2 linked regions of the Homo sapiens genome follow. The protein of the gene in region 1 purifies or fractionates together with the protein of each later gene. This does not show direct contact. Each region holds a gene or a part of one and is shown on either strand. Other genes may lie near its edges. The genes, in order: RGSL1 and D2HGDH.

Evidence for each region.
Region 2: the proteins of RGSL1 (region 1) and D2HGDH fractionate together in Homo sapiens (co-fractionation; one large-scale study listed by BioGRID). This does not show direct contact.

Annotation. Positions count from the first base shown.
Region 1 is NC_000001.11:182,448,613-182,452,528, reverse strand, and holds the start of RGSL1 (regulator of G-protein signaling protein-like), read right to left. Parts: upstream 2,384-3,916; 5' UTR 2,364-2,383; coding exon 2,351-2,363; intron 1-2,350.
Region 2 is NC_000002.12:241,737,314-241,741,129, forward strand, and holds part of D2HGDH (D-2-hydroxyglutarate dehydrogenase, mitochondrial isoform 1 precursor), read left to right. Parts: intron 1-3,719; coding exon 3,720-3,777; intron 3,778-3,816.

The sequences.
Region 1 (3,916 bases):
GTGAGCCGAGATCGCACCACTGCACTCCAGCCTGAGTGACAGAGTGAGACTCTGTCTCAAAAAAAAAAAAAAGGAAACCCAGATAAACACTATTGTGAGTGACAGAGCTGGTATCAGCACTTGCCCTCTGTTCACATACATCTTTTTTCTTGCTGTCAAGTGCTATGTGTGTTTTATGTGTACCCCTCCCAAGCCCTCTGCTCTTCTTTTTATAAGCAGTCCTTGATTTATTTAATCTATTCCATATGGGTGATTCCAAAATCTGTGTTTTCAGTCCAGGCTTCTCTCCTTCACTCTGGTTTTAAATATACATGAGCTATGGGCCAGCTCTACATGCATATCCATCAGGCACTTTCATCTCAACATGTTCAATGTGTCCAGGCCTCCCAACCTGCTCCTTTTCCTACATTCCCAGTCCCAGTTACTGGAATTATCATTCAATAAATTATCTAATCCTGAAAACTGAGGCTCTTCTCTCTGTCTCTGTCCCTGTCTCTCACTCTCACTCTCACTCTCAATCTCTCTTACTCTTGCTCTTACTCTCTTGTTCTCTCTCTCTCCCCTCCATGTCCCTACATGCAATGGGGGATCATGCTGTATGGTTTCTCTTTGTACCTATCTCTGGAATCTGTCTTCTCCTTTCCATCCATAAAGTTACTCTTCCATTACAGGCCTCTATGCTCTCTCACCTAGACTTCTGCATCAGCTTCTTAAATGGTCTCCCTAGCTCCCACCTCTTGCCCTTCCAACCACCCTACACGTACTGCCACCATAATCTGTTGATATTATTATTGTTAAAGTCTTTCAAAATCTCCTTGATGTCCTAGAAGGTAAAGTCCAAACTCTCTAGTATAGTATCTGAGGCTTTACCCCATCTGGCTTTTGAGTTTCCTCCCAGTCTCATTTCCTGCCTCTCTGCGCACTCTGCCTCCTGTTTGCAAGCTAAGCCAAGGCATTGCTGTTTCCTGCATGTGCTAGGTACTCTCACTTGAAACCTCCATGTCTTTGTTCCCATATTCCCATTGCTTCAAATGTTTTCTTAAGCACAGTCAGCTCACAAATTAATAGTCATCCATTAAGAACTGGTTTACATATAATCTTGGTGAGCCAAGAAAGGTAGAATCTACTGCAATGGTAGAATTCATCACTATCTCCCTATACCATCACGTATATCCTCCATTATTACAATTAACAAGTCTGACTGTTTTTATCCATCGATATATCTGTCTTCCTCATCAGACTGAGCGTGTGAGAGGAGGGACTTTGTTTTTTCACCTTTCTTCCTCTAGGCTCTAAAAGTGTTTGCACAATGTCTAAGTTCTGTAAATGTGGAATAAATTGTTCTTTCAAAAGATAATCTTCAATCTTTTTTTTTTTTTTTTTTTGCCAAAGTCTCACTCCGTCACCCAGGCTGGAATGCAGTGGCAAGATCTCAACTCACTGCAGACTCTGCCTCCCAGATTCAAGTGATTCTTGTGTCTCAACCTCTCCAGTAGCTGGGATTACAGTGCATGCCACCACACCTGGCTAATTTCTGTATTTTCAGTAGAGATGGGGTTTTACCATGTTGGCCAGGCTGGTCTTGAACTCCTGACCTCAGGTAATCCACCTGCCTCAGCCTCCCAAAGTACTAGGATTACAAGGGTGAGCCAACGCTCCCAGCCAATGATTTTCAATCTTTTGGACTTTTGTTTGTTTATCATTCATAGAGTCTAACATGGATTTGTTGAATGAGTATATTACTGAGCCCATCTGAATACAGAAAAGTGGGGTTTGGCAGAAATTCCCTAGTGATTGTTGTTCACAGCTACACACACCGCTGGTGGCAAGGGGCCTGACTATGCTAGGGCTTGCCATTGCCAAAACAGTCTTAAGGAGATATAGAGACAAGGCTCTGTACATCCTTCCCTTCCTCATCCTCTCATTTCTCCATTCTTGTTTTTCCTTCTTACCTGTTCTGCCTTCAAACTTCCTAATAATTTGAGAAGGCTTTTAGCACCCATTCCACGCCATAATAATATTGACTTGGCAACAAATGAAATCACTGCATAATCTCAAACCCCATACCAGTCTTCTCTCTGGAGGAGAGGTGGCCCAATCCACATTTTACTTCCTCCCTCTTGCCTTAGTTGTCTTATGAATAAGGCCCTGTACTATCCTCAAAGATCTGGTGGCAGAAGGTAGGAGGAAGGGGAAGAAGGAGAAAGAGAAGGAAAACAAAGGCATGAATAACACAAAAGTCACCCATGGTGCCCCTGAATGGCTCAGATCTATTAACAATTGGGAAGATGAATGGTTTGCCTTATTTGAGAGACTCAAGGCCTTGGAGACATCCCTGGCAGAGACTCACCAGCACTGCTCATGTTGCCATGCTCTTCCTGACACAGTAATTTGTTAGGGGCAGAATTACCCCCCAGTCAATAGAACTATATCCATTGTGAACACGTAATGACACCTTCTCTAAGGGGTTCCAGATTCTATCTGGCAGTGATCTACTTACCTCTGGTGTAGGCCTTAATCTGAAGATAAGTCTTTATCTTACCTAATCTGCTGAATCCCCTTGGACATACAAGACTCCTCCTATACTTAAGCCTTTAGTTCATACTATTTTATTTGACAAGTTCTTTATAATTGTGCCCAAGATCTCTTGTCTGCTCCAACCTCTCCCATGCTAGGGTGACTTTTGCATTGCTAAACTCAGCTCCTAAGGGTCTTGTAAACGGTTACATTTGATGTAATTTTAATAAGCAGTAACTCCTGGATATTCTGCCCATTTAAAACATCAACCTCCATTGCTTCAGCCCAGGAATTCAAGGCTGCTGTGAGCTGTGATCACACCACTGAACTTCAGCTTGGGCAACAGAGTGAAACCTCATCTTTAAAAAATTAAAATTAAAACATCAGCTTCCAAGAGGTTTGAACTCCCTTCCTCTGAAGACTCTTCAGGCTCTTGGTTTTCTCATTAAACAACTCTTCATTTCTCCTGTTCTTCCCTAATAGGAAGTAAATATTAAGATGAGAGACCAAAAGCCCTATAATCCTTCAAACTTTAGCCAAGAATTACTGAGAATAGAATTCTTCAGTGTCACACCCAGAGAGGGCTTTTAAGTCTTGGGATTGTAGGGAAGCTTATATAATGTCCAAAAGGCTTTCCTATGGGGGGTGGAGGGAAAACTGAAAACTGGAAGGATTATTGTTAATAATGAATCGTCAATACAATATCACTTACATTTGAAAAAGTGCTGTACTTTCTTTAGAATATATAAAGACCAAATACTGCATTTTAAAGTGATTTTAGTGAGAAGAGATTCTTGCTTTACATCTTGATGTTCTATGTATTGCAAGATGAGATTGTAGCTTACCATACTTCTTCAATCTGTTATCAATTACCTTATTCACCTTATTAATTAGTCAGTTTAACATGCACACATCTTAAGAGAGTTCAGTGTGAAGCACTGCATGATTCTACAATATCATATTATTCCTTGAATTATCACCTCTTTTGCAAAATAAATAGAGTCAAGGTCTCCTCCTAAAATAATGGCATATACAGTAGTAATATATGCTCACATTCCTTAAGATGGAATGCTTTCAGACTGTTTTCAATCAAGCTGTGTGCACCTACCCTTGAGTCCTAATTGCTGCCCCACCGTCTTTCCCACAGTTCAAAAAGGCTGACTGTTGGAGCCATTAACAACCAAATAGGGTCACTCTAAAAACAGTAAAGATGAAAAGCCAGTATCACTGGCTAAATCTTGAAATGCATAATGGTTAGATCCCTGACCCTTTCATGACCTTCTAGTTCCCAAAAGAAAAGGGCACCAGATGTCTCCCAAATGTGTGGTAATAAGAATTACCTTATTGACAGGGTTGTTGTTAAAAACCTAAATTGCCGGGACCGTCCCCTGGCAATTCT
Region 2 (3,816 bases), on another chromosome or scaffold:
GGAAGCAGACGTATCTTTTTGGAGCCCATTAGGTAAGATGCAGGGCTCCTGGCCAACAATGCCTGCTCCTCTCCTCCCACTGCACTTCTGCCCAGTGGCATACAAGTCTGTGCACGAATGAGGGACTTCTCAGCCTCTGGGGCTGGCACTTCCTTTTGGTAACAGTGCCCAGTTTTCTCTTTTTTTATTTTTTTGAGATGGAGTCTTGCCCTGTCACTCAGGGTGGAGTGCAGTGGCACGATCTCCCCTTACTGCAACCTCCACTTCCTGGGGTCAAGCGATTTTCCTGTCTCAGCCTCCTGAGTAGCTGGGACTACAGCTGGGTTACACGCCTGTAACCCAGTTCTGTGGGAGATCGCTTGAGCCCAGGAGTTCAAGACCAGCCTGAGCAACATGGTGAAACTCTATCTCTACAGAAAATTAAAAATTAGCCGGGTATGGTGGCATGTGTCTGTGTGCTAAAATAGTAAAGCGAGGTAGAAGAGAATTGGTTGACTCTTAATTTACAACAAAATGATATATTTAAACCTGTGGAACTGGCACCAGGTCCTGGGGCTGAACATAGGGTGTGCTGTCATTGGGAAGATCTGGAATTGTTTTTATCTTTTTTTTGTTGGCCCTTGTAGAAGATTGAAATTATTAAGAACACTCAGAAAGTTTCCAGACCGTGTAATCTGGGAGTGCAGCGTATGTTAAAACAGTTCAGAAAGTTAGCAAGTTGAACTGGGGTCTAGGCTCAGATAATGGAAGCAGCTCTTTCCCTGCAGAAAGGCTGGGAGTCACTGGAAATCGCTGGACCAATGGTCACTGTGTAGGAGCTCTCTTGAGTGGAAGGGCCCCCACCCTCACCCTGCTCCCGAAGTAAGGACCCCTCTGGGGCGATCTCAAGCTGCTGCCCTGAGTGCACACCATGGCCCAGGGCCTGTGGGCTCACGAATGTTGTCCCCGGAGGCAGGTGAGGATGGACGCCCACCCTGGGCTTGGCTAAGTCGGGCCCCAGTCCTGGCTCAGCACTGCTGTCTGGGTGGCCCTAGGCAGATGACCCTCAGTGCCTGCCCTACAAAATGGGACTTGGAGCCACTGCCTCAGGAACACCGTGCGGGTAAGTGGGGCAGGAACCTAGCGTGAGCCTTGAGCACAATGCTTGGGTTCCCGTGCTCCCAGCCTGCTCGGAGGCCAGCACCCTGGGCTATGCCGCTGCTGCCCTCATGGGCAAGGGACCTCCCCGGGGCATGCAGGAGCGGGGAGGAAGCTGTAACTGAGATTGAGGGGTGACCACGCTCTTCCTCTCCTCTGCCTTGCCTGAGCCTGACTGGGCAAGAACTGGCTGTCCCCCTGGGTCCCCGCTCTCTGGTCAGCACCTTTTTGGGAATCCGTGGCCATGGACACCCTGTCCTGCTGCAGGGCCGCCCCTCGGTGTCTGTGTGTGCCTGTGGGAGGGCGCCTTCCTCTGCGTCCTGCTGCCCCGAGTTTGGTGAGGGCGAGGCTGAATTTCACTCATGTTTGAGTCCACAGGTTTGGTCCTGAATGTCTGCTCAGTAGGTGTTTGCTGATGTGAGGCTTAGTTGTTGAATTTTAGGTGAATTATCCCTTCATGTGGCTTGCTTTTGGAGAGAGAGCTTGTCTAGACTTCTGAAAACTCATTAAGCATCATATTCAAAAATCTAGACCATTTGCTCAGGATGGATGCTGCAGACGTTTAGTGAGCACGCCTGCACTGGCAGGAAGGTGGGAGCTTCGCGGTGTGAAAACAGGCTGGGCCCCTGTGTCACCTCTGGCGGCCTTGCCCCCATGGCCCCCTCCGTCTTTGTGGGGCTCCCATCGTTAACACTGGACCACCGGGAGGGAGCCCTCCTTTTCATCTTTCCCGTTAGAAGGTAAACATCACAGGAGTGGGAAATTCTGTGCTCATTCTGTGTCTGGAACGCGGCCTGGCCTGCATTCTTGGGGGGTACTCATGTTTGTGTTGAGAACCCTGCCACAGGCGCGTCACAAGTGTGTCCGAGTCGAAAGCTTTGCCATGAGTCCTGGGGCTCCTGAGCCCACTCGGGACAGGGACGCAGTGAGCGCAGGTGCCAGGGTTCCCTCAGGTGCCGCACTGAAGTGTCGGGCCGAGGCCCAGGTGCCCAGCAGGCCCCTCTGCAAAAATTGCTCATTTGATGAAAGAGACATAAGTGGCTTTCTGATCAGAAAAGCAAGGTGGACACCACAGCCTGGTTCTCAGAGCTCCACGAAGAGGTGACAGGCTCCCGTGACTGCACCTGCTGCCTCTCTGCAGCCCCCATCACCTGGGAAAGTCGTCTCAAGGAAACCCAAAGGCAGAAAGACGCCTGCTCACTTGGGGCAGCAGTGGTTAGCAACACCGGCGAACTAGCTCAGAGGGCTCCCACTGGTCACATCCAGGCATTCAGCAAATAAGGCGGCCAAGACTTATAGCCCAGTGAATAAAGTGAGAAGCCGAGAGCCCACATCACTGTGAATAAGCAGCTACATAAACACGTCAGTGAGAGCGAAGGGAAAGCCCTCCCTCGTGGCAGAGTCAGCTAAGAGGCCGGGCGCGGCGACTCATGCCTGTAACCACAGCCCTTAGGGAGGCTGAGGTGGGTGGATTGCTTGAGGCCATGAGTTCAAGATCAGACTGGGGAACATGGTGAAACCCTGTTTCTACTAAAAATATCAAAATTAGCCGGGCATGGTGGCAGGCACCTGTAGTCCCAGCTGCTTGGGAGGCTGAAGCAGGAGGATCGCTTGAGCTCAGGAGGTTGAGGCTGCAGTGAGCTGTGATTGTGTCACTGTACTCCAGACTGGGTGACGGAGTGAGACCCTGTTTCAAAAGAAATAAAAGGAAGTGTAGGTGGACAGATGGATTTAGGAAAATCACCAGTTGGCAACCATCCTAGTAACTGATTTGGTCTAGGATAATCAAAGATGTTAATGGGTGAAGCTTGAGGAGCAACAGGATGTCCACATAGTCTCAAGCGTCTGCTTGTGAGGTGCACACACATCACGAAAGGAAGTGTGGTGGCGTGGCAGGAGGGAAGCCTGCAGACATCCCGTTACCGTGGGACCGAGCCGACCTCACCACAAGTGGGTGGGCAACCTTGGAGCTGCCAATGCCTGGCCTGTGGGACTCTCATCCATGGGCCCAGCCTTACCCACTTCTGCACACTGTGCCCAGTGCCCGGCCCACCACCTCCCATGTGGGACCTAGTTTTGGTTTTTTTGAGATGGCTTCTTGCTCTGTCACCCAGGCTGGAGTGCAGTGTTGCGATCATAGCTCACTGCAGCCTTGACCTCCTGGACTCAGATGATTCTCCCTCCTCAGCTTCCCAAATAAGATCACTCTCTGGGGGCTGGGCATGGTGGCTCATGCCTGTAATCCCAGCACTTTGGGAGGCCGCAGTGGGCGGATCACGAGGTCAGGAGTTCGAGACCAGCCTGGCCAATGTGGTGAAACCCTGTCTCTACTAAAAATACAAAAATTAGCCAGGTGTGGTGGCGGGTGCCTATAATCCCAGCTACTTGGGAGGCTGAGGCAGGAGAATCGCTTGAACCTGGGAGGGAGAGGTTGCAGTGAGCCAGGATCGTGGCACTTCAGCCTGGGCAACAGAGTGAGAGTCCGTCTCCAAAAAAAAAAACTCGCTCTCTGGGGCGAGTGACCACTTGCCTCATCTGCAGCTCCCCCCACGCTGTCTCATAGGATCTTCTTCCTGTCACAGGCTGTAGCAAGGTGCTGCTGAGGCCACGGACGTCGGAGGAGGTGTCCCACATCCTCAGGTGAGGTGGTGGCTCCCGGCTCCCCCAGCCTTCCCTGTT